4 linked regions of the Homo sapiens genome follow. The protein of the gene in region 1 interacts with the protein of each later gene in a pairwise test. Each region holds a gene or a part of one and is shown in the gene's direction. Other genes may lie near its edges.

Evidence for each region.
Region 2: the proteins of IL16 (region 1) and PPP1R16A interact in binary tests that used the Homo sapiens proteins (3 or more experiments, as listed by UniProt).
Region 3: the proteins of IL16 (region 1) and CCDC184 interact in binary tests that used the Homo sapiens proteins (3 or more experiments, as listed by UniProt).
Region 4: the proteins of IL16 (region 1) and ANXA6 interact in binary tests that used the Homo sapiens proteins (3 or more experiments, as listed by UniProt).

The regions. Positions count from the first base shown.
Region 1 is NC_000015.10:81,297,822-81,304,917, forward strand, and holds part of IL16 (pro-interleukin-16), read left to right. Parts: intron 1-1,482; coding exon of another isoform or gene 1,483-1,526; exon of another isoform or gene 1,527-1,558; coding exon 1,559-2,654; intron 2,655-3,522; coding exon 3,523-3,691; intron 3,692-5,727; coding exon 5,728-5,829; intron 5,830-7,096. UniProt on the Homo sapiens protein: Interleukin-16 stimulates a migratory response in CD4+ lymphocytes, monocytes, and eosinophils. Primes CD4+ T-cells for IL-2 and IL-15 responsiveness. Also induces T-lymphocyte expression of interleukin 2 receptor. Ligand for CD4.
Region 2 is NC_000008.11:144,494,914-144,502,009, forward strand, and holds part of PPP1R16A (protein phosphatase 1 regulatory subunit 16A), read left to right. Parts: exon of another isoform or gene 1-1,547; 5' UTR 1,548-2,281; coding exon 2,282-2,540; intron 2,541-3,063; exon of another isoform or gene 3,064-3,082; coding exon of another isoform or gene 3,083-3,304; exon of another isoform or gene 3,305-3,856; coding exon 3,857-3,927; exon of another isoform or gene 3,928-4,002; coding exon 4,003-4,148; exon of another isoform or gene 4,149-4,609; intron 4,610-5,182; coding exon 5,183-5,286; intron 5,287-5,353; coding exon 5,354-5,478; intron 5,479-5,573; coding exon 5,574-5,699; intron 5,700-5,772; coding exon 5,773-5,848; intron 5,849-5,928; coding exon 5,929-6,058; intron 6,059-6,215; coding exon 6,216-6,381; intron 6,382-6,606; coding exon 6,607-6,990; 3' UTR 6,991-7,096. UniProt on the Homo sapiens protein: Inhibits protein phosphatase 1 activity toward phosphorylase, myosin light chain and myosin substrates.
Region 3 is NC_000012.12:48,179,777-48,186,478, forward strand, and holds CCDC184 (coiled-coil domain-containing protein 184), read left to right. Parts: upstream 1-3,867; 5' UTR 3,868-4,346; coding exon 4,347-4,931; 3' UTR 4,932-6,150; downstream 6,151-6,702.
Region 4 is NC_000005.10:151,154,732-151,162,538, reverse strand, and holds the start of ANXA6 (annexin A6), read left to right. Parts: upstream 1-4,759; 5' UTR 4,760-4,859; intron 4,860-7,807. UniProt on the Homo sapiens protein: May associate with CD21. May regulate the release of Ca(2+) from intracellular stores.

The DNA.
Region 1 (7,096 bases):
AGGTCCTGCCTCCAAGGAGCAACTAGTAGTGGCAGGAAATAAACATATAGACTATAAAACATATGACTGTTTGAGTAACACTACAGAAAAGCTCATGAAAGACTTTTGGAGGGCTAAGGGACATTTTGGAAAGATCTAGCACATCTCACCCAGAGCAGAGGCCCTGTGGGTGGAGGCTCCTCTCCCTTAGTCACCCTAATTGAGGAACATTCTAGCAAAAGCAAACGCCTCAGTGTTTAACTGACAGGAGGTTGTCACTCCAATCTGCAAAGGGCTTGCCTGTGGAACCTCTGCCTCCTGATTCTCACAACAGCACCTTACAGCCAAGCCATTCAAAAATGCAGAAACAGGCTGGAGGCCTGGGCTCACTTGCCCAAGGCCAGTCTCTTAGATTGTGCAGAATTTCTCTTTGATATCATCAAGGTGTAATGCTCCATGATTCACTTCTTTTGAAACCTGGCATTGAGACAAGGGACAGGAGGGATCAGAGTTCCTTCAACTGGGTTGCGTTCCAGTAGCAAGCATCCCCCAAGGCACACAGGCCAGCCTCCCTCTGCCCCTGGGAAAGAGAGCCAGGACACCCTCTCCCTTACCCATGCAGATATGATGCTGGTTCAATGCTGGCTTCTGAGAAAGACTCCTATGTGCTCCAGGGCATGCCTGAGGTCCTGGCTGGCACAGAGCAGGTTGCACATTGCAATCCCCTGCTCATCACATTCCCAACACCCAGGCTGCATCCCAGGTATCTTCAGTCAGTACCTAGGGGTGGGCGTCAGTATTTTTCAGGGCCCTCCAGATTCCAGTATGTAGCCAAGGTGGAGAATCCTACTTCACAGATTCCTTTCTACCTGGAACCTTTTCATCAGCTTTTGAGGGAGGGAAAACACTCCTTTGCCGAGAGCAAGCTGATCAATGACCTGTGTATAGGCAGAGCAGCAAACACACGGCTTCAGGGCCAGGCAGGTACATACATGGGAAATGCTGGCTGGGTGAGAGGGAGCGTGAAGAGCTGTGGGAAGCCGAAGTGGCCCCATCAGAAGCTGTGCACAGGCACCTTGTTTTTAATGACACGGGTAGGTCAAAGCACAAACAGCTGCCAACTCATGACCTTTGTCTTAAAAGTTTAAACGGCAGGAGAACTGCTTTGGCTTTTACACATTTAACATGGTATCTTGGAGGCTCCTTAGTGCAGTAGAAAGGACATGAACTTCAAGAGTCAGGAGACACAGGGTCTTGCCTGAGCACTGCCATCAGATGGCCCCTTACCCTTCTTGAAATGTAATATGCCAGAGGTCGGCCCAGATATTCTCTGAGCACCCTTCCAGGCCTAAAACACTAGGATACTGTGAGATTAACTCCTACTTCTGGTCCTTCACTCCTGCCTGTTGGCAGCTCAGTCAGGTAATAGCACCTGGAGTTCACCCACCTGGGTGTCCCCCACTTCTGCTAATCTCCTCCTCTTGAATCCTTCTTGCTGTTCAGCTTGGAAACTAGAATTTAGGAAGAAAAGTCACTGTATGATGTAATGCACAGCTTTGGCCTTGTTTCTGCACTGTAGTGACCCAAACATCCCCGATAAAACACCCACTGCTTAAGAGGCAGGCTCGGATGGACTATAGCTTTGATACCACAGCCGAAGACCCTTGGGTTAGGATTTCTGACTGCATCAAAAACTTATTTAGCCCCATCATGAGTGAGAACCATGGCCACATGCCTCTACAGCCCAATGCCAGCCTGAATGAAGAAGAAGGGACACAGGGCCACCCAGATGGGACCCCACCAAAGCTGGACACCGCCAATGGCACTCCCAAAGTTTACAAGTCAGCAGACAGCAGCACTGTGAAGAAAGGTCCTCCTGTGGCTCCCAAGCCAGCCTGGTTTCGCCAAAGCTTGAAAGGTTTGAGGAATCGTGCTTCAGACCCAAGAGGGCTCCCTGATCCTGCCTTGTCCACCCAGCCAGCACCTGCTTCCAGGGAGCACCTAGGATCACACATCCGGGCCTCCTCCTCCTCCTCCTCCATCAGGCAGAGAATCAGCTCCTTTGAAACCTTTGGCTCCTCTCAACTGCCTGACAAAGGAGCCCAGAGACTGAGCCTCCAGCCCTCCTCTGGGGAGGCAGCAAAACCTCTTGGGAAGCATGAGGAAGGACGGTTTTCTGGACTCTTGGGGCGAGGGGCTGCACCCACTCTTGTGCCCCAGCAGCCTGAGCAAGTACTGTCCTCGGGGTCCCCTGCAGCCTCCGAGGCCAGAGACCCAGGTGTGTCTGAGTCCCCTCCCCCAGGGCGGCAGCCCAATCAGAAAACTCTCCCCCCTGGCCCGGACCCGCTCCTAAGGCTGCTGTCAACACAGGCTGAGGAATCTCAAGGCCCAGTGCTCAAGATGCCTAGCCAGCGAGCACGGAGCTTCCCCCTGACCAGGTCCCAGTCCTGTGAGACGAAGCTACTTGACGAAAAGACCAGCAAACTCTATTCTATCAGCAGCCAAGTGTCATCGGCTGTCATGAAATCCTTGCTGTGCCTTCCATCTTCTATCTCCTGTGCCCAGACTCCCTGCATCCCCAAGGAAGGGGCATCTCCAACATCATCATCCAACGAAGACTCAGCTGCAAATGGTTCTGCTGAAACATCTGCCTTGGACACAGGGTTCTCGCTCAAGTGAGTTTCTACACCCGGTGTTTCTCTTTACCTTTCTCATCTTTTTCTTTCTCATCTTTATTTTTAAAAATAATCCTATATATAATTTAAAAAATTCCCAGATATATTGATTAAAGAATTGTTCTGCCTCTTTCTTTCCATGTGTGTGCAGATGTCTGAGTGTGTGTGTGTCTGTCTGTAGGTATTACACCTCTGCCTTTCACATTAAGGAGGAGTTTTCACAACATCTGGCTTCAGGAGGGCTGGGAGGTAGGAGGTGGGACTGGCTCCCTGGTGAATTGCTCATGAGGGCTGACATACGCCTGTGGAGATTTGGAAGGTTGATGCACATCTGAAATGTCCTGCGGTTACTCAGAAAGACCAGAATGAGGCCAGGAAATTATCCATCAGGAATTCTTACTCTCCAAATGGAATCCACTTGTACTCTGCACGTGGGTTCAACTCCCTCGTCAGGGAGTTAGGATGTCTGGGTCCTAGTCTCAGCTTAGGCACTGATTCTGACTATGAGCAGGTTCTTTCCATGCTCACCCTCAGATTCCTTGTCAGTTGAAATTAGGAGATGGATGAGACCTTCTATGCAGAACCAAGAGGATGTCAGACGTGCCATAGGGTCCCTGCTGTAGGGCTGGGGCTTGGTCTTCCCTCTGATCAAAGTAGCTCTGCATTTATTAGTTTTATTTATTATTCTTACACTGCTGGGAAATATCTGTAGAGTGAAGGTATGCTAGTATCTACTCATAGATTTGTTGCATCAAATAATATGCACATAAGTGCTTGGCACCACACCTGGGACATAGTAATTATACAATCACTGTTACCTCTTTTTAATATTGTTGTTCATACTGTGTGTTGTTTCTCCTTATGAAAGCCTTTCAGAGCTGAGAGAATATACAGAGGGTCTCACGGAAGCCAAGGAAGACGATGATGGGGACCACAGTTCCCTTCAGTCTGGTCAGTCCGTTATCTCCCTGCTGAGCTCAGAAGAATTAAAAAAACTCATCGAGGAGGTGAAGGTTCTGGATGAAGCAACATTAAAGGTAGGTTTCCTTTGTAAGCATCTGCAGTAACCAATGGCTTATTATGGCTGTGTGGCCACCTTAGTTGGGCCAGAGGGGAAGTAGCTTGAGTAGCCTGCTCACATCAGACCCAGGTTGCGTCCTGTGATGGTGGGACACTGTAGCACTTGACCACAGTAAGACCTTCCATTTGAAGAGAGCCTTTTAGCTTGTGAACCACTTTCAGTAGATTGACTTCTTGCATCTTCTTTTGTCATTTTATAAATGAGAAAGGTAAGGCTCAATCAAGGTTACAGAACCTGGGTTTTCTGTCTCCAAGTTCAAGTTCAGTGCTGTTTCCACATTCCATGTGCTGCTGTCCTGGCATGTGTCTGTTGTGGGATGCTGTCCATTGTAAACAATGTGGGTTACAAGAGCTCTCACCTGGAGCTTTCATTATTTCCACTGTGCATGGAGAGGTGGCTGATCCCAGGGCTCACAAGTCCCCCACGCTTCAGTCAAGTCATTCTGAAAGTCTCACTTCCCATATGTTTTCTGAGCATGACCCAAAGGGGTGTGGGGAGGAAGTGGCCAGGCTGAGCTGGGGCCAGCAGTCAAATGAGCTCAGGCTCATGGGTCCTGCACCCTCTAGGTGCTGCCCCAGGCCTCCGTAGGCTTTTGGCACTAGAATGATCCAGGCTAGGATGAGAGGATAAGGAGGTTCTCGTTTTCCATACAAGGAGGCCTCATAGCTGCAATTTCCACATCAAGAGTGTAGGTGAGTCTGATGAGCCCAAGGTGCTGCTGTGCTGAGATTCTTTCGCTGTGGCTTTCACTTGTCACCTGGGACCATCATCCCCCAGGATCTTACTCAGTGCAAATGAAATAACAGAGGCAGAGCGTGTAAAACACAAAGAGCCATCCTGCCTGAGCTGCTCTGGGGAGAGTATTTGCTTTCTAACATGAGAAGAGCCTTCTACAAGGCAAGTAACCTGATACTTGGGTAAAAGTTGAGAGAGTTGGGCTAGTGTTGGGGCTTGGAGGTGAGGGTGCAGTGAGGTACATTCATCCTTCCATGCCTTTGGGTCTTAGGGGCTCCAAGTCTTAGGATCATAGGGACAGCTGCAAGTCAGGTGCTCTAGTGACGCTGAGCAAGTGAATTCTTTGACATAAGTTTACTCCTTAGTGCCAAGGTACAAACAGGTGCCCCAAGAACCTGTAGGTGTACTTTATTTGGTCTGCATGGTGATGAAAAAAATATTGAATTCTATACATGATAAAACCTGAATTGAAACCTGGACTTTAGGGAAGTGATCTGGTAGCGCTAGTTCTGTATGCCTACGTAGAGCTGACCCTTTGAGCAGATGTACTCGTTGGCGCTCTGCAGTTCCTATCACACATCTGCCCATTTGGCTCATTTTAGGGACCTGCCTGACTCCTATAGGCATCTGAGTTTGAGACCCCTGCTCTAGACTGGAATAGGAGTCTCTGACTGTGTCCTGGCTCCATGGGAGTCCCCGTCTAGGCTAGGAAGTACCGTAGTAATGTGTGTGTGTGTGTGTGTGTGTGTGTGTCACACTTGCACACTGTGCATTGGGGCAGGATGTTAGCTGGGCTTCCTTAGTGCTGCTGCTGTGACCCATGGAGAAGTAGAAGGGAAGAAGGAGCAACCAATTCCTGCAGAACAGCACTGACCCCTGTTTTGTTTTTTGTTGTTTTTTTTTTTTGTTTTGTTTTACCTGAAGTCCTACAACCTGACTTCATCTCACACTGTCCAATATGCTGATTTCTGGCTGACTTCATGGCACTCCCCCTGCCCGGCTGTGGACAGGGTGAATGAGAGAGGAAAATAATTATGCTTGCTGCTTTACATACATTTTTTTTTTCTTCTAAGCTTCCCATGACTCCTGAAGGTCCATTCTTTACAGATGAGGAAACTGAGGTTTGAGGAGGTGATGTAACTTGGAGGCTGGCCAAGCTGGGGTTTGAGATAACAAATCAGTCTGATGTCAGTCCGATGTTAAATTGTTCATCCTCTTGCAGTAAAATGTTTTTGAATGTATGTATTTCCTCTGCAGCAATTAGACGGCATCCATGTCACCATCTTACACAAGGAGGAAGGTGCTGGTCTTGGGTTCAGCTTGGCAGGAGGAGCAGATCTAGAAAACAAGGTGATTACGGTGAGTGGCCAAGTGAAGGGGCATGTCACAGCCAGAGGCAATGGTTCTGGGGGAGGGGGACACACTTGCCAGGAAGGGGCCCTGTGCTGGGGAAATGAAGAATGCATGACACTAGGCCACTGGGCAGGTCCTGTCCACTCAGCACATCCCAGAGCCTGGGGCTGCGTGGAGAGGGTAGCAGGCCTGGCCATGGGCATCTTTTCCTGTGGGTCCCACTATTCTGGCTCATCCAATCTGATCAGCATTGGCTGCTGCCTTCAGGTCACCTGTACCTGACCCAGATGGTTTCTGGTTCTGCCAGTTTTGTGGAGCCATGCTGCGGCTGCTCGCTCTCTAAAGCCGAGTGCATTGCTGTCATCCCAGGGCTGTGTTGTCTCAGGGTATCCTTTGTGTAGGCTGTGCTGGGCTCATTTGAATTTCCATGCCCAACTGAAAACAAATCCTCCAGTTCACAGCATCAGCCAGCATTCAACATACCACACCCCCTTGCAGTGGCAATCTGGCATGTTCCTGCGTGTCACTTCAGAGTCAATCATGTCAGTGGTGACTTCCTTGATTTCCTGATAAGTTTTCTATCACATAAAAAACACTTAAAACCTGTAAGTCTCTATTTCTCTCACTGAGTGCAGCTGAGTATTACAAAAAGATTCCTGACCGTGTAGTTTACTTTCTACTTGAAGAGGAGGAAAGAGAGCTTGCCTGTGGGAATGGCACTTTGGGTATTTTTCTCTGTCCATGAGTAGCAACTTCTGTCCACGTCATCTGGCCAGTCACCCTTGAGACACTGCAGACAACAGGAAACTAGGAGGAAGGCGCACATGTTGGCTGAGCACATGCACAAAAGCTTCTTTCTCCTTCTGTGTTTGAGCATTTCTCTTCCTTTCCAGATGATTAAAAGGGAACTAACGTAGAGCACCATCCACGGCCATGCTGAGCACTCACTGACCTGTTGTCTAAATTCATCCTACCCACACTTTGGATTGATAAATTGGTGGCATTTATGCTTCTTTTATAGAGGAGGAACCTGAGGTTCCTCCTTTAATTAACTTTAATCTTCGTTGGCCTAAAAATCCTCTAGCATTGAGGAACCTGAGGCTCAGAGGAGAGGTTCTGCTTCATGCTTGGATGTTACAGCCTGGGGATTCTAACCATGTAACAGAATTTTTCTAACACCAAAACAATTTAGAGAAGCAAAGAGCTTTGCTCCTATCATAAAAGCAAAACTACAGGTACCACATTTTAGTGGTTTCCATGCATGCTATCACTC
Region 2 (7,096 bases), on another chromosome or scaffold:
TGCCTCTCTGGTACCCATGCTGTGTCTCTAGAGGGCAAGGGGAGGACTTGGGAGCCTGGGCAGGGTGTCTGGCCAGTGTGTGCTTGCCCTGGCCTCTGCGGTCTACAGAGCTGGCCAGGCTTAGGAGCAGGCTGCTCGGAGGGAGAGTTACTGCCTGGAAAAGCTCTTTACTTGGCAGGCAGAAAGCCAGGTCAGGGCCACTGGCCTTATTGGCCGTGTCCTCAGGAAGCCTCTGAGGCTAGGCCTACAGGGGGGGACTATGTCTAGAGTAGGCTGAACCTGTAAAGTGGGGCTCCCAGATAAATTGGGGGCCCCTGAGCAGGAAGGACCTGACTGGCTTAATTTGACCTGGCCCAGGACAGTTCCCTTTCTGAAAGAAGGGGGCATTCTATGAAACACCTGGGTAGAAGTCCAGCAGTGAAGAGTTGGGTCAGTGTGTAGATGGCCATGAGGCCTGGCTGGGTGGAGAATAGGACTCCTGGCAGGCATCTTCTGCAGAGCACGGAGTGCCTTCTTTCTTTTCTTTCTTCCTTTCTTTCTTTCTCGGAGTCTCGCTCTGTCACCCAGGCTGGAGTGCAGTGGCGTGATCTTGGCTCATTGCAAGCTCTGCCTCCCTGGTTCACGCCATTCTCCTGCCTCAGCCTCCCGAGTAGCTGGGACTACAGGCACGTGCCACCACGCCCAGCTATTTTTTTTGTATTTTTAGCAGAGATGGGGTTTCACCCTGTTAGCTAGGATGGTCTCGATCTCCTGACCTCGTGATCCACCCGCCTTGGCCTCCCAAAGTGCTGGGATTACAGGCCTGAGCCACCGCGCCTGGCCAAGCACAGAGTGCCTTCTGAGGTGAGGCCTGTGGCCAGCCCAGCAACCACACTTAGTGTGTCGGGCAGGACTAGGGCCATAGCAGGTACATAGGCAGGGTTGTGCCCCAGCCGAAGCTGTCTGCCTGCCTGTCTGTCCCCATAGGCCTCAAGCCAGGCACCAGGTGGGGGCTTTTATTGCAGCCTAGGATGGCAGAGGCATTGTGGGAGCCCATCAAGGAAGAGGTCTAGAGACTGGGCAGTGAGAGGCTGGGGTATCAGTCAGGACAGGAGGAGGCGGGGCCTACCCTTGGAAGGCAGGAGAGGTGGAGGCCCAGGAGGCGGGGCCTGCCCTTGGAAGGCAGTAGCCTGCAAAGCCCTCAAGGCTGTTCCACGAGACCTCACCCTGCCCAGCCTTAGGGCAGCGCCTGGCCCTGGAGGAGCAGCCTAGCAGGGAACGCCTCGCTGGGGTGGGCGGCCCTTTCTGGAAAGGGTGGGTGGGAGGAGCCTGACATGCCTTTCCCCCGCCCCTCTCTGAACCTGGGGCAGAATGGGGGCAGAGTAGCTCCCCGTACCCCCAGGACTGTTGACCTGCAGTGCTCTCTGTGGACAAAGGGTGGGCCTCACACAGGGCAGGACCTGAGACAGCTGGAAGCCTGGTCTCACCTGAGGCCCAGGGCAGGGGCTCCCCCGGGCCACCCTGCCTCAAGCCGGCCTTGATATGCTTCCTTGTTCCCCACTTCTCAGGTGTGAGCAGCTGCTGGAAGAGGAGGTGCTCCTGAAGACACTGCGGCCGGCCCGCCTGTGCCCTTGGTGCCCTGGCTGCCTAGAGAGCCTCACCCCTGGGCCCTGGGGCCAGGACTCCAGGACTCTGACTACCTGCCCTCCCCCAGCCTCAGCGGCTGCACCTCCTCGTTAGTACTGATGCACTGACCTCGGCACACAGCTGGGAGGGGTTGGGGGCTGGGTCATGGCTGCTCCCAGGCCCCACCCAGGCTCCTGAGCCTAGAAGGTGAAAAGAGGACTCTCAGGGGCTCACAGGGGCTCTCACTGCTGGTTGGCCCTGCCCTCCCTTCCCCCTCAGCAGGGTGCCCGGAAGCTGGAACCTTGTTATCTGGGTAATTAGTTTCAGACCCTGCACTGAGGCCGGCCAGGTCTCGGGGCTGCCTCCCATAGGTTGTGCACCCTGACCCCGAGAGGGAGGCGAGGCGCTGCTTGTCGACAGCTAGAGGCTGGCCTGGGGAGCAGGTTTGGGGTGCCCTCCCACACTGCCCTCCCTGCCCCGGCCCATGCCCCCCAGGGCTGCCTGGGCCTGGTTATTGTGTGGGGCCTCCTGACCCAGCCAAGGGCACGAAGCTCTGGGAAGGGGATGCCCCCGAGGGTGCCAGTCCAGCTAGCTGCCCCACCCCTCAGGCCCAGCCTGGCCCCCAAGCTCCCCACTCTGGTGCCCCGAGCAGCCCTGTGGGCAAGCAGCCGCCGCCATGGCCGAGCACCTGGAGCTGCTGGCAGAGATGCCCATGGTGGGCAGGATGAGCACACAGGAGCGGCTGAAGCATGCCCAGAAGCGGCGCGCCCAGCAGGTGAAGATGTGGGCCCAGGCTGAGAAGGAGGCCCAGGGCAAGAAGGGTCCTGGGGAGCGTCCCCGGAAGGAGGCAGCCAGCCAAGGGCTCCTGAAGCAGGTCCTCTTCCCTCCCAGTGTTGTCCTTCTGGAGGCCGCTGCCCGAAATGACCTGGAAGAAGGTGAGTGTGGCTGAGCCCAGAGCAGCTCCCAGCAGACGGCCCACTCCCTGCTACCTGGGTGCCGTCTCATGCCAAGGCTGGGGGCTGGGCCTGTCCACAGCTCCTGGGCTCCAGCCCCCAGATCTTGCCTGGTCTCTTCAGGCTGGGTGGCCCAGGGTGCCCCCATCAGGCAAGCCCCAAGCAGTGGGCAGCCCTGAGGTGAGCCTGTGCGGGACAGCCGTCCTTCAGGCGGGGGCTGCATGCAGAGGGCTCCTGCTGTGAGGTGAGCTGAGGCCATGAGTGGACCCCCAGGAGCCTGCAGAAAAACCTAGTGCGGGGCCCCACGGGAGCAGGGGTGGCCGGTAGTCATTGCTGCTTCTTGTTAGGCTGCTCAGGAGAGCCCTGGTCTCCACCTCCGTGAAATAGGGTGGGACCAGCCACCTCTGTGGGTGAGAGAGCCAGGCCCTGGGCAGGCACAGAGCTATGCAGGTGGCCCCCTCTCAGTGCCTGCCCTAGGCTCTGCTTGTGACTCTCTTCTCCTCACCTGTGCCCCACGCTTGCAGCCCCAGCTGTGTGGGTTCCACTTCTGGTGCTCTGGAGTCTTGGGGGAAGAGGCACTGTGGTGGCCCTTGAGACTCCTTCCTGCCTCCCTCCGGAGCAGAGAGTAAAGAGGAGCCGGCAGTGTCTGGCCTGCATCTTTCCATGTGGACAGGAGCCCTCCCGGGAGGCCTGGAGGCAGAGGGAAGAGGCGGAGGGTGCCATGGTCCACAGGGAGCTGTGGGAAGGTGGGAGCCCTCCTGCTGCACCCCAGGCACCGTCAGGGAGAACCCTGGTGACCTGGGCGAGAGCTGGGCCCGAGTTGGGATCTTTGATGGGGAGGGGAGTGAGAGCAGGGATGTGCTCTGGTGGTGGGGAGCCTCAGGTCAGGTCCCAGAGGACCCAGGAGAGCTCATGAACACAGGGCTGGCAGGTTGTCAGGGAAGAGCCGAAGGAGCTGTGGTAGCCTCCAGGCAGGGAGCTCTTCCTGGGCTGGAGGGAGGTGTGGGATTGTTGGAGTGCTGCTCTCACACAGGAGCACGGCCTGTTCTGGGGGTCGGAGGGCTGGAGCACCACCATGAAGGGCCTGCAGGTGGGTGGAGGCAGAGGGCTTCTGGGAGTGTGACCGGCCTGGGCCAGACAGATGCCTGGTGCTTCTGCCCCCACCCCTGGGCTCTGGTGTGCCTCCTGCCATCGGCACCACTGTCTTCCTTGTCCTTCCCTGGGTCCTGGGCCGAAGCACAGTTGACAGGACCTGACCAGGGGCAGGACCCTGTCCTCACCTCGCCACCTTTTTGCAGTCCGCCAGTTCCTTGGGAGTGGGGTCAGCCCTGACTTGGCCAACGAGGACGGCCTGACGGCCCTGCACCAGGTCAGCCTGCACTGGGTGTGGGCAGGGTGGGGGCTGGCCCCCGTGCTCTGGTCGCTCACGTGGCACGGTTTGCAGTGCTGCATTGATGATTTCCGAGAGATGGTGCAGCAGCTCCTGGAGGCTGGGGCCAACATCAATGCCTGTGACAGTGAGTGCTGGACGCCTCTGCATGCTGCGGCCACCTGCGGCCACCTGCACCTGGTGGAGCTGCTCATCGCCAGGTAGGGCCTGTTGGGCGTCCTTGGCAGGGAGAGGCTTCCTCTCAGATGGCCGCTCAGGAGGCTCCTCTTGGGCAGTATCTGTGGCTCTCGGCCTCCTGTGTTCCCGCCTTCACCTTTGCTGACCCTGCCTGTGTCCTGGCATGGAGAGCAGGGCCTGGGGCTCCAGGGGAATGGGCATGTGCCCAGGGCAGCGCGGTCCCTGCCTCCCCAGCATTCGTCCTCCTGCCGAGAGGGCAGGCCTCGGGCCCCCCCCCAGAGTGTGCACAGAGAAATGTCTTGGTCAGTGAGGAGGGCAGAACTGCTAAGGAGGGAAGCAGAGTGAGGAGGCCAGGTGGCTTGGGAGGAGAGGGTACCTGAGCACAGGTAGGGCCTTTACCTTTAACACAGAGGGACGTAGAGCGGGGGGAACTCTGAGCAGGGAGGGTCCATGAGCCTCCTCCCTTCCCCTTTGCTCCAGGCATCTGTAGTGGGAGAGAGGTCAGGGCTGCGGTCATTCTCGAGTGCCCCTGTGAGGCCGGGTGGGGTGTGCATGGCGGTCGCGTCACACACAGGCGCTGCGGGGCAGGCGGGGATGTGGGGTGTCCACAGGTAGGCCTGCTCCTCCACTGCACACAGACACCCCCTTCTGTGTTCTGGGCTCCCCTTCACCGCCCTTCTTCCCTGGGGCCATGCTCCCCACAGCTCAGCAGCCCCTCAGCGTGGCTGCCTGGTCCTGCACCCCCGCCACCCTGTGCTCCCTGCTCCCCAGCAGGCAGGCCCATCCAATGCATGTTTATGGGGGCACCGCTGCCCCTGGAGGTGCCAGGAACCTGGATCCCTGGATGGATAGAGACTGCAGGAGGCCTGTCTGGCTTAATGACAGGATCTAGGACAGCCGATGGGCCCCAAGGCTGCCTCTCCCAGCAGCAGGTGGACAGGGTGCCTCCTGAGGGGCAGCCCTGGGCTGAGGGGCCCTGGCGGGGACTTCTCCAAGTGAGGAGCCTGGCAAGCGGGGAAGGGCCTTGTGCCCAGCACCCCGTCCGTCTTCCCTGCAGTGGCGCCAATCTCCTGGCGGTCAACACCGACGGGAACATGCCCTATGACCTGTGTGATGATGAGCAGACGCTGGACTGCCTGGAGACTGCCATGGCCGACCGTGGTAGGTGCGGCGGTGCGGCTGTGGGAGGGCTGCCGGTCGCGCTCCCTCTGAGCCTGCCGCCTCGCAGGCATCACCCAGGACAGCATCGAGGCCGCCCGGGCCGTGCCAGAACTGCGCATGCTGGACGACATCCGGAGCCGGCTGCAGGCCGGGGCAGACCTCCATGCCCCCCTGGACCACGGGGCCACGCTGGTGAGGGCTGGGGGGTGAGGGGCACACGGGGCTGGGGGCCTCGCTACTTGGAGGTGGGGGATGGGGCCGAATTCAGGCCGGGCGCTTGCCTGCAGCTGCACGTCGCAGCCGCCAACGGGTTCAGCGAGGCGGCTGCCCTGCTGCTGGAACACCGAGCCAGCCTGAGCGCTAAGGACCAAGACGGCTGGGAGCCGCTGCACGCCGCGGCCTACTGGGGCCAGGTGAGTGCGGGCGGGAGCAGGTGGGAGGGGGCTTCCAGCGCAGCAGTCTGCAGCTCCGGCCTGCCGTCCACAGGTGCCCCTGGTGGAGCTGCTCGTGGCGCACGGGGCCGACCTGAACGCAAAGTCCCTGATGGACGAGACGCCCCTTGGTGAGCTTGCGGGGCCCACCTCCACCTGGGGGAGAGGACAGGCGGGGAGGGCGCCCCTGACGCCTGCGCCCACTTCTCAGATGTGTGCGGGGACGAGGAGGTGCGGGCCAAGCTGCTGGAGCTGAAGCACAAGCACGACGCCCTCCTGCGCGCCCAGAGCCGCCAGCGCTCCTTGCTGCGCCGCCGCACCTCCAGCGCCGGCAGCCGCGGGTGAGCGCCGCCCCCAGCAGGCCCCGCCCCGGGCTTGGCCCCGCGGACGTCAGCCCCGGGCGGAGTGCCAGCCGAACTGGGGGCAGAGTCCGAGGGGGTGGGCGGGGTCCTCCGGGCACTCCCCTTCCCCTCACTCCCTCTCCTCTCTCCTCCCCAGGAAGGTGGTGAGGCGGGTGAGCCTAACCCAGCGCACCGACCTGTACCGCAAGCAGCACGCCCAGGAGGCCATCGTGTGGCAACAGCCGCCGCCCACCAGCCCGGAGCCGCCCGAGGACAACGATGACCGCCAGACAGGCGCAGAGCTCAGGCCGCCGCCCCCGGAGGTGAGCGCCCCGTCCCTGCTCCGCCCAGCGCAGGGGTGGGCCTGGCTCTGCCCTGGTTCTCTCTCCGCTTGGACCCCCTCCTGCCTGTGTCAGGAATGGTGCCCTGCAGGGGCCAGCTTTTGCCCCATCTCTCCTGTCTGTCCCTTCATGACCATACAGCCTGAACCCAAGGCCAGGGAGGGGGGAGGAGCCTCCTGATGGCTCTGGGACCTTCACTGCCCGCAGGAGGACAACCCCGAAGTGGTCAGGCCGCACAATGGCCGAGTAGGGGGCTCCCCAGTGCGGCATCTATACTCCAAGCGACTAGACCGGAGTGTCTCCTACCAGCTGAGCCCCCTGGACAGCACCACCCCCCACACCCTGGTCCACGACAAGGCCCACCACACCCTGGCTGACCTGAAGCGCCAGCGAGCTGCTGCCAAGCTGCAGCGACCCCCACCTGAGGGGCCCGAGAGCCCTGAGACAGCTGAGCCTGGCCTGCCTGGTGACACGGTGACCCCCCAGCCTGACTGTGGCTTCAGGGCAGGCGGGGACCCACCCCTGCTCAAGCTCACAGCCCCGGCGGTGGAGGCTCCCGTGGAGAGGAGGCCGTGCTGCCTGCTCATGTGAGGCTGTTGCTCAGCATGCAGGGGCCCTGTCGCGGGCACAGCCCAAGGCTGCCTCCCCACGGTGCGTGCCCTGGTGCTGCGGGTGCAGCACGGAAACCCCGGCTTCT
Region 3 (6,702 bases), on another chromosome or scaffold:
TGTTTCGCTGTGCACTAAGAATGTAAACCCCTTTAAAGTTTGCCCAGAGACTGTAATAAAAATCTAAATTTCTTTTTAATTCTTTTGGCTATTGGATATGTTTGAGTGTGATATCAAGCTGTGATGGGCCACAAAACAGGTCAGCTTCATGAAAGTTATATTTGGGGGATACTGTCTGGGATTTGGCGCCTAAGGTACAGCAGTCAGCTATATCTTGTTTTAAATCATTGCTCTAGACCTGAGTCTAGCCAGCATCATCGGATTTATAGTGCAAAAAATACACCAGCTATAGAAAATAGAAACTAGAGATACACGAGACACCAGACAGAGGAAAATGGCAGAGCCTCTTCCAAATCCCAATTTTAGTGAGAATATGAGGTTTGAAACTAGGTGTACCTGATGGAAACCTATATGTAGATAGCATGAGGGTCTCTCCCTATCACAGATTGATAAGAGTGGGATGAAGAGAATAGCTAAGGGGATTCCCAGAGGATAATAGAAAAGCAGGAAGCAGAAGCTGTGCGGGGGTTATATTCTCTTATTATGTGGCAGTTCCTCTGAATATTCTAGTAGGATGGCTGGGGTATACATCTGGCCACCTTTTGCTTGGAAATGGACCCATGCAACTAACTATAGGGCATTGGGATCCAGAGGGCCCAGGCCTGTAACCCATCTAGCTGACTGAGGCTCTGCCTCTGTTCTCCTTATTCTCCTTATTTTCCTGAGACTAGACTTTTCTACCTCATCTCATTTTCACACAGAGTTCCTGAAATGATCTGGTTTTCTATCAGATGCACCAATGTCTCCTTCCTATATTTTCTTTTTCTTTTCTTTTCTCTTTTCTTTTCTTTTCCTTCCCCTTCCCCTTCCCTTTCCCTTTCTTTCTCTTTCTTTCTTTCCTTCTTTCTTTTCTTTCTTTCTTTCTTTCTTTTCTTTCTTTTTCTTTCTTTCTTTTTCTTTCTTTCTTTTCTCTCTCTCTCTCTCTCTCTTTCTTTCTTTCGACTAAGTCTTGCTCTGTCACCCAGGCTGGAGTGCAGTGGCACAATCTTGGCTCACTGCAACCTCTGCCTCCTGGGTTTGAGCGACTGTCCTGCCTCAGCCTCTGGAGTAGCTGGGATTACAGGTGCCCACCACCATGCCCAGCTAATTTTTGTGTTTTTAGTACAGACAGGGCTTCACCATGTTGACCAGGCTGATCTCAAACTACTGATCTTAAGTGATCCACCCACCTCAGCCTCCCACAATGCTGGGATTACAGGCATGAGCCACCGCACCCAGCCACCTTCCTATATTTTCAAATCCTGCTACTGGTCCACTCCCCCAGTTCCCACCTACCCTTGGCTCTCAAATGTTTGACCTGGAACTTGACTGGACCAGCCAAACTGCTTGATCTCTGCACATGTTTCCCATGGCCTTTTGTGCTTCTCCAATAATTTCCCCTCCCTCTGGGCTCAGATCCCTTGTACTCTCAGTGGACTTCATGGCCAGCACCTCTGGACAGCATGATGTAATCTTATGCTGAAAGCCTTCACATCCTCAAGAATAGTGGCAAAAGGCCTTGTATGATGACATACCATAGCTCCTCCTGTATGGGGGCTATGCTTAGTGTAAGCTTATGGGATTTCAACAATGAGAGGTCCCCCACTGGGACAGAGTCACTCTTTGTAGGTAGAAGGTAGGGATATACCTGAAGGGTGAATTGGCAAGATGAAATCTTCCATGTGAAGTGCTTGTCAAGAGATGTAAAGTAACAGACCTAGACAGAAAGTCTGAAAGCCATGCCAGTCTTTTCTGGCTATAGCAGAGCTCTCCTCGGAAGGATGAAAGCAGGGTTGGACCTATAAGCCCTGAGAACATGCTTGCTGTAGTATAATCAGAAACTTATGCTGTGTAAGCTCAGCTGTTTTCATGTGTTCTGTTTCTATTTCTAGTTTTCCTATAGTTTTTAATAAAGTCTCTTTGTAAACACCAGCCCACTTCAGCTGTGCTTATGGAAACCAAGGAAAAGCATTTCTGTCCTCTCTTGAGCCAGAGTTTCAGGAGTAATCTAAGGTGTTATTACCACGTGTGGGGTACAGAGCAGAGGTAGGAGTCCTAAGCAAGGTGAGAGTGCTGGAAATCTGTAGAATGAAGGAAGAAATGAGCAAGCAAATAGAATTGAATCATTAGTTTCAGAAAATACAATACTGTGTTTTTAAAATTTGTTCATATATTTGTTTTGGGAAATCAAATTTTTAATGGCTGCATAATACTTTATGTATCAGCAATTTTGCCTTAGTTTATTTAAACATTCTGCTGCTGGTCATTTAGGATAGTCCCCACTTGTTTCTATTTTAAAAGCAGTAAGATTGGTATAGGTCAAGCAGTCCTCTAGTGTCACAAAACTTTCCCTGGGCCAGCCTCACTCTTCATCACCAAGCACATAACCAGGGAAACCCAAAGGTAACACATTTGCTGTCACTGAACCGCCAGTCTACAAAACACTCACCTTTACGTAGTTCTTCTCTATCTTGAAGTGATATAGTTTGTTTCTCTTTCCCAGATTTATTCTTATGAACTTCATTTTTGGCTTCCGATCACTTGGCTTCCCTAATTTCCTAGGGTCATTATTAATTATTGTGCTCTGCCCAGGTGCTGATTCCTTCTCAATCTGCAATCATCTACGTATATTAAAGACAATTTTTCTTCTTCCTCCACCCTTCCTGCTCCACCCCTTAAATAGGGAAAGGGCTTGTCACAAAGGTTGGGGATACTCAGTGTATGTCTGAACTTGGGCACTGAAAGAGAGAGCGGGAATTACTCTAACACACAGTCCCCCCATCCATACCCTCCACACAACGGTCAACAGTTTACCTTTTCACCTGTGAGATGATGCAGACTGTTATTCAGAATTAGAAATAGTATTATAGATTATCCAGTCCAATTCCCTAACAGATGAGGAAAATGATGTGGCCAAGGTCGCTGAATGAATAAGTGGCAGAAACGAAACTGAATTCAGGTCTCCTAAAACCCACTACGTTTGGCTTGGGGAGTTCTGGATGAGAGCGTGGGACTTGGTGGTTTTTGTTATTCATTCAATAACTATATTAAGCATCTACATACTAGGTGCCAGGCACTATTTTAGGAGCTGGGGATTCCGTGATGGAGGGTGCAGGGGAGACAAAAATCTCTCCCCTTATGGAGCTTTCATTCTCAAAACTTAAGCACTTGGCCTCCCCATCTGGGACAAACTCCCAGAGACCTGCGTAGGAGCGGTAGGGTCTCATAAAGGAGGGAGTCCCATCCTTCCCCCGCTCCGGTGATTTCTATAGCTAGAGGGCTGATTTACTGCAGAAACCTCCGTAGCGCCCTCCTCCTGCCTCTGCACCGTCAGGCCCGGTGGGTCCGGCTCCAGAGCGCCACCGTGCCCCAGCTCAACTCTGGGATCATTAGCAACAGCCTCTCTACCCTCTCCGCTTTCCTGCGCATCGCTGGAGGACAGGGAGGCAGGACTCGACTTTAGCGCCATCCTCTGAGAAAGGAATGCGGGCTGGAAAAATCTTTCCAGGGCAGTCTCGCTGGGTCTCATACCCCGGCTAGGGGAGGGACGATCTCTCCCGGACTTGGAGGTTTCTGCAGCAGACGGCTCTCTCATACTTCCCTATTAAACATTGCGACCACACGCTCTTTCCAGCCTTGGCCGAAGCCACTGTAGCGTCCCCTCTCCTCCCCCCACCCCGCTAGTCCAGACTCCAGAGCCCCACTGCAGCTTCCAGCCATCCTCCCTTTTTCTTCGCCACTTCCTGGTTACCATGGAGACACACGTCATTTACGTGCCGTGCGTCGCCTTGGAAACAGAGGAGCATCCGCGACACCCCCGGGAGACCCACCCCAGCTGCTGCTGCCACACTCGCGGGCGCTGCCCGGTAATGGCCTGGGGGAGTCCCGAGTCCGACGCGCCGCTGGCCTCAGCCTGGACGCGGACCCCTCCGCGAGCGCGTCTGTGACCCACGGAACCGGCAGGCGCTCTCTGCTTGTGGCGCCCAGAGGGCGGCGCTGACACGGGCGCGATCCGGGAGGCGAGGCAGGGCAGGGCACTTTCGTCCCGGGGCGATCCCAAGAGACGCCGGCTCTGGGACCCTCGCCGGGTCCTCGTCCCGCAGCCTCTTCTCGGCCTCCCGCGATCCTGCCTGCGCCCTCTGCCCAGGACTCGTCTCTCACGTCGGCTCCCCGCCAGTCTCGGGAGCCTCCGCTTCCCTCGGCTCCCGCTAGCCCCTCCCGGGACCTCTCCCCCTCCACCCCCTCCCCCACCCCGGAGGCCGGGCTGGACGCGACCCAGAGCCTCCGCCACCCGCTTCTGCCACTCAATGGAGGACGGTCTGCTGGAGATCATGACCAAGGACGGCGGCGACATGCCGGCGCCCCTGGAGGTGTCCACCGTGCCGGCAGTGGGGGACGTGATCTCCGGGGAGTACAACGGCGGCATGAAGGAACTGATGGAGCACCTGAAAGCCCAGCTGCAAGCCCTGTTTGAGGACGTGAGGGCCATGAGGGGGGCCCTGGACGAGCAGGCCTCGCACATCCAGGTGCTCTCGGACGACGTGTGCGCCAACCAGCGAGCCATCGTCTCCATGTGCCAGATTATGACCACTGCGCCCCGCCAGGGCGGCTTGGGCGTGGTCGGCGGCAAGGGGAGCTTCCAGAGCGACCCCCAAGAGCCGGAGACTCCTTCGCCTGGGATCGGGGACAGCGGCTTGCTGGGTCGCGATCCCGAGGACGAGGAGGAAGAGGAAGAAGAGAAGGAGATGCCCAGCCCCGCCACACCCTCCAGTCACTGTGAGCGCCCCGAAAGCCCCTGTGCTGGTCTCCTTGGGGGGGACGGGCCACTTGTGGAGCCCCTCGACATGCCCGACATTACCCTGCTGCAACTGGAGGGCGAGGCCTCCCTGTGAGGGGACTCCGTGGGGCACTACCTTCCCGGGCTGTCTTTGGGTTTCCGAGTGCATGACGCGAGGGGGACTGAACGGCGCGGTGCGGCATGCTTCACTTGGACAGCTGCTCTTGTGGGTCAGGCAGAGAGAGACTCCCTCGAGGAAGGATTTGTAGGGTGAAGGACTTTGGGAGCATCGAGAATTCTTTCTGCCCAACTAAGCGAATTATAGCGAACTGCGGAAAGGTGAGGCTCCGGGAGAGGAAGCGCCCATCTCTGGACTCCCATCCATCCCTATCCTGTCCTTTCCCCCTTCCCAGACAACAGGAGAACCCGTGAATTGTGTAAATAAAATTCTGCTTTTTCTATTCTGAAAAAGGACTTACCTAGGACCATGGCAAATAATCTCTAACAATTTACCTGGAAATTAAGGAATTGGGGGTATTTTGTTCTGGCAACAGGAAATTTACCCTTCTGCTGAAATCCAAGATATTCAGTGCTCTGCAGAAGCCTCTCCCCCTCACAGATCTCTGCGGCTGCTGATTGGTAAAGGAAGCTTGAGGAGGGAACTGCAGCCCTAGGAATCTGGGTGAATGGGGTTCCAAGGGCCCCTGGGCTGGGAGGAGCTGGCTATGAATGTGCATGAAGACATAATAGCTCAACCTCTAGGATTTTGCATGCAGAGCGGATCCTGCCTTGTCACTGACTTCATCTGGGATTGCTTTTCCACTCCCTGGGGCTTAGAGAACAAAGAGCCCGGTTCACAGGCAGAGACTCGGGGGTGCTCAGCAGCAGCCCAGATTTAGGGGACATTTGAGGGACTCTTGGGGCCGCAGCCAAAAACTGTCTCTCCTGGCTACACCTGCTTAACTTCAGTTCCTTTTTCTGTCAATATGTCCTTGCCCACTGCCTCTCGGTGTTGCCTTCATAATGTCTTGTGTGTGTTATGTGTGTCTACTTGTGTAGTAGTGTGTGAGCCCTCAGGGGCAGGGCTTGTGGCTCTGGTGTTAGGTTCAGGGGCTTCAGACCCTTCTACGAGCTCCAAGCTATCAATGGCGCTTTTCTCTCCCTCTTCCCCCAACCAGGGCATGGAGCATGTGGCTGTCCTGAGGTTCTTTTACTGATGTGCCGCCCTTCCACCTCCTCAAGTGGTGACTTTGTGTGCCCTCCCCCTCCTTTGTGTATTCCTTCTCAATGCTTTCCTTGGTGTTAACCTTAATAAAAAGGCGTCATCTCCCCTCCTTGCTGACTGGTACTAAGGGGATATCAGGGTGGGTCTTAGTGGGAACTGCAGGGGCCATGCCTTCCCTCCTCTCTCCTTGCCTCCAGTTCAAGGAGTTGACTGTCCCTGCCCTGGTTGGGACAGGCATTGCCAACTCTCCCTGCTTTCCCTTCTGTCCTGGACCTTGACCTCAAGCTGCCCTGGGGAAGGAGGTGGTAAGTGTTGAGACTCCCATGCTAACATGAGTTTTTAGTAGCCAGAACTCCAAATGTGCAGGAGACTTCTTTTTCAGTGAAGCATCCCAGTGAAGCCCTGGGAAATGATTTCCAAATCTGGGTCCTGGAATGGCAGATACTGCACCTGTTCCATGGAGGGAGTGGGGTGGGGGTATTGTTCTGGAGGGATTGCCTGGGATCTCTGGAAATAGTGACACATCACAAAGGGAAACCACAATAACTGCCTCAGGCCTCTAGTGGAGAACCCGGGTAAGGTGTTCCCCAGAGGGCTTGACTGACAGCTCTAGTCTACTCCCTTGGGCAATGGAGATTTCTTGAGGCTGCCCCTGAACAAA
Region 4 (7,807 bases), on another chromosome or scaffold:
TTGTAGACCTTGTCCTACTTTACCTAAAAGCAGCATTTGACACACCTGATCACTCCCTTATTTTTCACTTTGCTGCCACATTCTCCTGGGGTAGTTTCCTCCCATCTTACTACAATCTCCTTCCCAGTCACCTTTGCTGAATTCTTTTCTTCTCCCCAACTCTTTTATTTTATTTTTTGAGAGTCTCACTCTGTCTCTCAGGCTGGAGTGCAATGGTGCCATCTCACTGCAATCTCCACCTCCTGGGAGTGATTCTCCTGCCTCAGCCTCCCAAGTAGCTGGGATTACAGCATGCACCACCACGTCCAGCTAACTTTTTGTATTTTTAGTAGAGATGGGGTTTAACTATGTTGGTCAGGCTGGTCTTGAACTCCTGGCCTCAAGTGATCCACCCACCTCAGCCTCCCAAAGTGCTGGAATTACAGGCATGAGCCACCGGGTCCGGCCTCTCCCCAAATGGTAACATAAGAGTGTCTCAGACTCGGTCCTTAGCATCGTGGGTGATCAGCAACTATTTGGGGCTGGCGGTACAGGCAGTAAGAAGAATTTACCAAGGCAGTTGTAGGTAAAGAAAGGCAGATTTATTAGAGAAAGTATGAAAATACATTGCTGCCAGACGTGGTGGCTCATGCCTATAATCCCAGCACTTTGGGAAGCCGAGGTGGATCACGAGGTCAGGAGTTTGAGACCAGCCTGATCAACATGGTGAAAACCCATCTCTACTAAAAATACAAATATTAGCCAGGTGTGGTGGCACGCACCTGTAATCCCAGCTACTCAGGAGCCTAAGGCAGAAGAATCGCTTGAACCCGGGAGGCGGAGGTTGTGGTGAGTCGAGATAGTGCCACTGCACTACAGTCTGGGCGACAGAGTGAGACTTCATCTCAAAAGAAAAACAGAAAAGAAAAGAAAATACGTTGCAAGGGTGCAACGGGCAAGTTAGCAAAACAGAAGCTAACTGCAAGAAAACAAAATCTGGCTAAGGATTTTATAGGATGGTGCTTGTGCTGTGTGCTGAAGAGGGCTTTGTGCAGTACTGATAACATCAAGGGTGCAGGGAGCTTGCGTGCATTTTTCTATCAGGTGAGGGTCTGGCAATAGCTGGGCGCAGATAAGATTGTGAGTTATTCGCACAGGAGGGCTATGCATCCTGGGCCATGAAGAAAGGCAGACTTATAGCTTATCTGCTTTCTCTTTTTGCTTTCCCTTGGTCCTGCCAGCCTGACTCCTTTTGCCGAACTAGGACTCCATATTTAGTTCTCTTCTCCCTTAAGGATCTCATCTCTTGAACTCCAGACTTGACTAGCCAACTGCGTACTTGACATCTCCTGTTGGGTGTCTAATAGAAATGTTCAACAAACTGGTCAAAAACTGAACTCCTGATCTTTTCCCCACTTCTAATTCCCAAAATTGCTTTCCCTGCAGTCTTGCTCATTTCAGTTGATGGTAACTCCATCCTTCCAGTGGCTCAGGCCAGGATCCCTGAAGCCATTCTTGACTCTTTCTCATCTCCCACCTGATCCTTCGGAAATCATGTTCAACCTTCAAATACATCCCATCTCCAACCACTTCCCCCACCTGCATTTATACCAGCCTGTCTCTTGCCTGGATTACTGCAAAATCTCCTAGCAGATCCCCTTCTTCTACTCTTCCCCCAACAGTATTCAGTATTTCCAACACAGGAGACTTCAGTGACCCTTTAAAAAATATGTCTTGGCCAGGTGCGGTGGCTCACACCTGTAATCCCAGCACTTTGGGAGGCCAAGGCAGGTGGATCACCTGAGGTCAGGAGTTCAAGACCAACCTGGCCAACATGATGAATCCCCGTCTCTACTAAAAAAATACAAAAATTAACTGGGCATGGTAGCAGGTGCCTGTAATCCCAGCTATTTGGGAGGCTGAGGCGGAAAGAATTGCTTGAACCCACGAGGTGAAGGTTGCAGTGAGCCGACATGGCACCACTGCACTCCAGCCTGGGCAACAGAACGAGCCTCTGTCTCAAACAAACACAAAAGTCTTATCCAGAATATAAAAAGAACTCATATAACTTAACAACAAAAAAGACAAAAAATCCAATTTAAAAATGAGCAAAAAGCATGATTAGATATTTTTCCAAAGAAGATGTACAAATAGTGGCCAATGAGCACACAAAAAAGATACTCCACATCATTAGTCAGAAGGGAAATGCAAATCAAAAACACAATTATAGATGCCATTTCATAATGACTAGAGCACAAGTTTTTTGTACTTTTGTTTTTTTGAGACAAGTTCTCACTCTGTCGCCCAGGCTGGAGTGCAGTGGTGCAATCACGGCTCACTGCAGCCTCTACCTTCCAGCTTCAAGGGATCATCCCACCTCAGCCTCTCCAGTAGCTGGGATTGCAGGCATGTGCCACTACCCCTGGTTAATTTTTTGTAGAGATGCGGTTTCGTCATGTTGTCCAGGCTGGTCTCAAACTCGTGGGCTCAAGCAATTCACCCACCTCGGCCCTCCCAAAGTACTGGCATTACAGGCATGAGCCACTGTGCCTGGCCGGGTACAAATTTTTAAAAAATAAAATACAAGTGTTGGCAAGGACATGGAGAAATTAAAAGCCTCATACATGACATGGCTGATGGGAATATAAAATGTTGCAGCCACTCTGAAAAAATGTTTGGCAGTTCCTCAAAAACTTAAATGTAGAATTACTATATGACCCAGCAGTTTCATTCCTAGGTAAATACACAACGACAATTGAAAACAGGTACTCAAATAAGTATTTGTATGCAAATGTTCATTAGCAGCACTATTCACAATCAGCAAAAGGGGGAAACAATGCACTATCCATCAACAGATGGATGGATAAACAAATTATAGTGTACTTATACAACGGAAAATTATTCAGCCATTAAAAGGAATGGAGTGCTGGACCGGACACGGTGGCGCATGCCTGTAATCCCAGCACTTTGGGAGGCAAAGGCGGGTGGATCACCTGAGGTCAGGAGTTCGAGACCAGCCTAACTAACATGGTAAAACCCCATCTCTACTAAATACAAAAATAAATTAGCCACACGTGGTGGTGCATGCCTGTAATCCCAGCTGCTCGGAAGGCTGAGGCAGGAGAATTCCTTGAATCTGAGAGGTGGAGGTTGCAGTGAGCCGAGATCACGCCATTGCACTCCAGCCTTGGCAACAAGAGCAAAACTCCAACTGAAACTAAAAAAAAAAAGGAATGGAGTGCTGATACATGCTACAGTGTGGATGAACTTCAAAAACATGCCACATGAGGCCAGGCACGGTGGCTCACGCCTGTAATCCCAGCACTTTGGGAGGCCGAGGCAGGTGGATCACCTGAGGTCGGGAGTTCAAGACCAACCTGACCAACATGGAAAAACCCCGTCTCTACTAAAAATACAGAATTAGCTGGGTGTGGTGGCGCATGCCTGTAATCCCAACTACTCGGGAGGCTGAGGCAGGAGAATTGCTTGAACCCAGGAGGCAGAAGTTGTGGTGAGCAGAGATCACGCCACTGCACTCCAGCCTGGGCGACAAGAGTGAAAAAACAACAACAAAAACAAACAAACAAAATGCCACATGAAAGAAGTCAGACAAGAAGGGTTGCATCTCATGTGATTCCATGTATATGAAATATCCAGAATAGGCACATCCGCAGAAGCAGAAAGCAAATTGGTGGTTGCCAGAGACGAGGGGTAAGGGAAAGTTAGGAGTGACTGCTCAGTGGGTATACTGTTTTATTTTTCCGTGAAGAGAATATTTTGGAACTAGATAGAGGTGGTGGATACACAACATTGTGTCTGTACAAAATGCCACTGAATTGTTGACTTTAAAATGGTTAATTTTATGTTGTGTGGATTTCATCTACCCAAAAATAATACCCTTTCTTTGCTCAATATCCTGCAATGGATCCCCAGTTGACTCAGAGTAAAAGACAGCGTGCCTTCAAGGGCCCCGGAGGTCCCACCTGATTGGGTCCCTCTTATCTCTCCTCTCCCTCCCACTCACTCCATTCCAGCCACACTGGCCCCCCTGCTGATCCTCGGAGGCGCCAGGTGGCCTCCTGCTAGGAGCATTTGCTCCAGCAGTTTCCTCTGCCTGGAACACTTTCCGCAGGTATCTGTCCAATTCTTCTAACTTCCTCATCTTCTCCTTACCAATCCCCTGGGGACAATAATTCTCAGTTTCCTCTGTATTCTCAGTTTATCAATTTTTCCTGTTCTAGCGCTGGATTACAACTGCTGGTCTCCCTGCCTGCCTTCCCTGCTTCCCAGAGCACGAAGAAGCTTGCCTCCGCAACCCACTATTTGTGTGACCTTGGTCCAGGAACTGGACTGGGCTCTCCTCCTGAAAGTGGGTAAATAATGTCACCGACCTAATGAGGCTGTTGAGGCATGGAATCTGATCAGGCAGATAAAGTGCCCCTGGCAAACCTCAATTTTCTGTTTCTCAACAAAGCTTTGGCGACTTATAAGAATTTGCGGGAAAGTGTCCAGAACCCGGAGTCAGGAGCCCTGACTTCTAGCCCTGAAGGGCCGCGTGACCTTGGCCAAAGCCCCTAATCCTTCTCAGTCTCAGATCCGGGGGCTGGAAACTGAGGAGGTTCTCCCGGCAAGCCCCTCGGGCTAGTGACATTCTAAGATTCCAAGAGCTAAGGAGCTAGAGGGGTGGGGTGGAGGAGGGAGGCGGGCGCGCCGGATTGGCCTCTGCGCGCCACGTGTCCGGCTCGGAGCCCACGGCTGTCCTCCCGGTCCGCCCCGCGCTGCGGTTGCTGCTGGGCTAACGGGCTCCGATCCAGCGAGCGCTGCGTCCTCGAGTCCCTGCGCCCGTGCGTCCGTCTGCGACCCGAGGCCTCCGCTGCGCGGTGAGTGGGCTGAGGCTGGAGAGGGGAGTCGCTCTGGGAACCCCTTCCCGGGGGCTGCAGGGACACAAGAAATAAGCGCCCAGTCATCGGCTGATGGGTACCCCCCGCCAGGAGCAGGGACGGGAGGGCGCGGTAACCCGAGAGTGTCGCAGACTGGGTGTGTCTGGGGAGCGCAGCGGAGCAAATCTGGGGTCGGGGCGGAGAGGCGCGGGCGGAGGGCGCCCTGGCTAGGGGGAGGGGAGGGAGTCCCGTTGCTGCAGAGGGTCTGGTTGAGGGTCCTGGGCGCCGGAGCTGAGCCAGGGGCTGGTCCTGCCGGCCTTAATTTGGGGGGGCTCAAGAGACTTTGAAGGTCCGGGGTTGGGGTCAGCTGGACGCCAGTCAAAGGACCCGCAGAGAAGGGTGTGGCTGAGGCCCAAGACTGAGAGCAAGAGCGTTGGACCCTCCAGCTGCTTATAAAATGGCTTGTGTGTGGTGTCGGGGGAGGGCTGCCTGCGTGCAGAGAGCTGAACGTCCGGTCGTACATACCTCAGGGCCTCATTGGACCCCATCCCCTTTGGGCCACTGCTTGTCTATGAATGCAGTCTCCCAACGGGGCTCCGAGGCCTCCTATGGTGAGGCAGGGGCACTACCCTTCTTTCTGCATCCCCTAAGCGGTCTAGGCCTTCCCAAAGTTTGGGGGCTTCAAATAATTCCCCATATACCAGCATGGGAGCAAAATACCCTGAATCGGAATCCCAGCCCCTGTTGCAGTGTGACTTTGGGCGGTGGCTTTCCCTCTCTGAGCCTGGATTTCCTTCTCCAAGTCCATAGTTGAGAAACCCAGTCTCTTTCAAAGGAAACAATGGCTTTGAAAACTGATTTATTTGTCAGCTGTATGGAATGATTGCAGGTTTGGGAGTCTTGATTATAGATTTGGGAAGCCTGGCACAACCCTTGTAGGCCCTACAAGGGGAAAGGGCAGGAGGTCCTTTGGGACAACTAATCTGGCCACGGCTTCCTGCCTCCTCCTTCCTTTCCCTAGATTCTAGTGGGTCTTCTCTGACAATTCCAAATTTGGACATATGGCTCCCGGGTTTGTGAAAGGACTCTGGTTTCCCCCCAAGAGTCCGCCCTTTTCCCTCCATTATTCCTTCCCCCTTGCCCAAAACATGCTTGGGATTGCTTCCACTGACCCAGATGGCATATCCTGACCTGCGTAGCCCTTCATGGTGAAGTGAATGACCGCCCCAGTTTCAGCCCCTGTGGACCCTGACCTCCTAGCAGGCAGGCCCTGAGCCACGCCGAGGGCACTGGCCTGGGGTCAGAGGAAAGCCCGGTTACAGTCCGGATGTGCTGGGACTTCTTGAGCAAGCCCTTTCTCTAAGGCTTTGTGCCCCATCTGGAGCAAAGTCTGCTGAACTGGCTGCCACTGCCAGTGCAGACATTCTAGGATTCAACTGTTCTAAGATTTAGGATTCTGGGAGTTGGATGGGACTGGGGAGGGCAGGAGGCAGAGGCTTTCATCCCCCTCTGCAGCTGTGACAATCACTCATCCATCTTTCTTTGCCTTATCTACCCTTTGTTCCTAAGGCAGCATCTGCTGAGATACAGAAAATACTTGCAGTTTCTGGATAAGGGCCACAGCTGTTGCTGGGGCAAAATGTAGATGTGAGTGTGCAGAGGAGGGGCCAGGGAAGCCCAAGGCCTGGCCTCTTGAGACTGACTCCTGGGATGAAGTGGGGGAGACTGCAGTGCTGGATAGCTGCCAGTGACTGGCACATCCGCACTGCAGCATCCAGAGGGAGCCCTGGGCCACCAGGATCCAGCCTCGGACCCAGCCCCTGCCCTGCCACTAATCAGCTAGGCGCCCTGGGCACACCTACTACCCCTCTGGGGCTTAGCCCCTTCCTCTCTACAGGGATAGGACATATACCCAGGACACCCCACTGGTATTAATAAAATGGGTTGGGTCTGAATGGCTTTTGCTCTACCATTCTAGGATTTTCTGGGGAGGCCCAGTGGAATCACCAGCCTCACCCCACCCAGCCTCTCCGATATACTTCCTGGGTGGCGACAAAGCACAGGATGTGGTCTCTACCGTGATTCCTGAGCATGCATGCACCCCTTCTCCTGCCAATAGAGGGGAGGAAGTCGGAGGGGTGTCTTTATGCCTATAAACTTGCCTTGGAATCCAGCCTCACTCCCTTTCCTCCTGGAGTTGAGAAGCCCCCACAGAGACTGGCTATGGGGGAGTGACTGTCTATAGGTTCCTTGGATGTCCTGCCTATCTGCAAAATGAGAATGAGATCGATACCTTCATGAGGCTGTAAGATGGCAGATATAAAAGTGCTGTGTTATCTCAAAAGGGTGTGGTGCTTGAGAAGGCAGGCGACCTGAGCCTCAAGTTCCTCTTCTGAAAAATCCATGTCCTGGTGGTCCTTAAATAATAGCAATAAAATGGTAACCACTATTACCTCTCGAACCCTTAAATTTGCCAGGCCCCGGCTGAAGCCTTGCTATGTTAGACGCTGTTATTAATGCCTATTTTGCAGACATGGAAACTCCAGCCCTTAACAGTTTAAGGAAGAAATAATAATGACAAATGCTTATAAAATATAGTGCTTCCTGTGTGCCAGGTCCTCTTCTAAGCTCTAGACTTGTCTTAATTTTTTTTATCCTCATCATAACTCCTATGAGGGAGGTGCTATTTTTATCCCTTTTTTTTTTTTTTAATATGAAACAGGCACAGAGAGGCTCAATACTTGCACAACACCACACAGCTACTAAATATCACCCTCAGGCTTCAATCTCAGGCAGTCTGGCTCCAGCATCTATACTGTGAGACACTACTTTGCTGCCTCTCACAAAAGTGACCCAAGCTGGGGTTCAAACCTAGGCTAGACTAGTTCCAATCCTGAGGCAGAGAGATGATCTCCTGAGGCCTTGTCCAGTCCTAGGATCAATGGTTC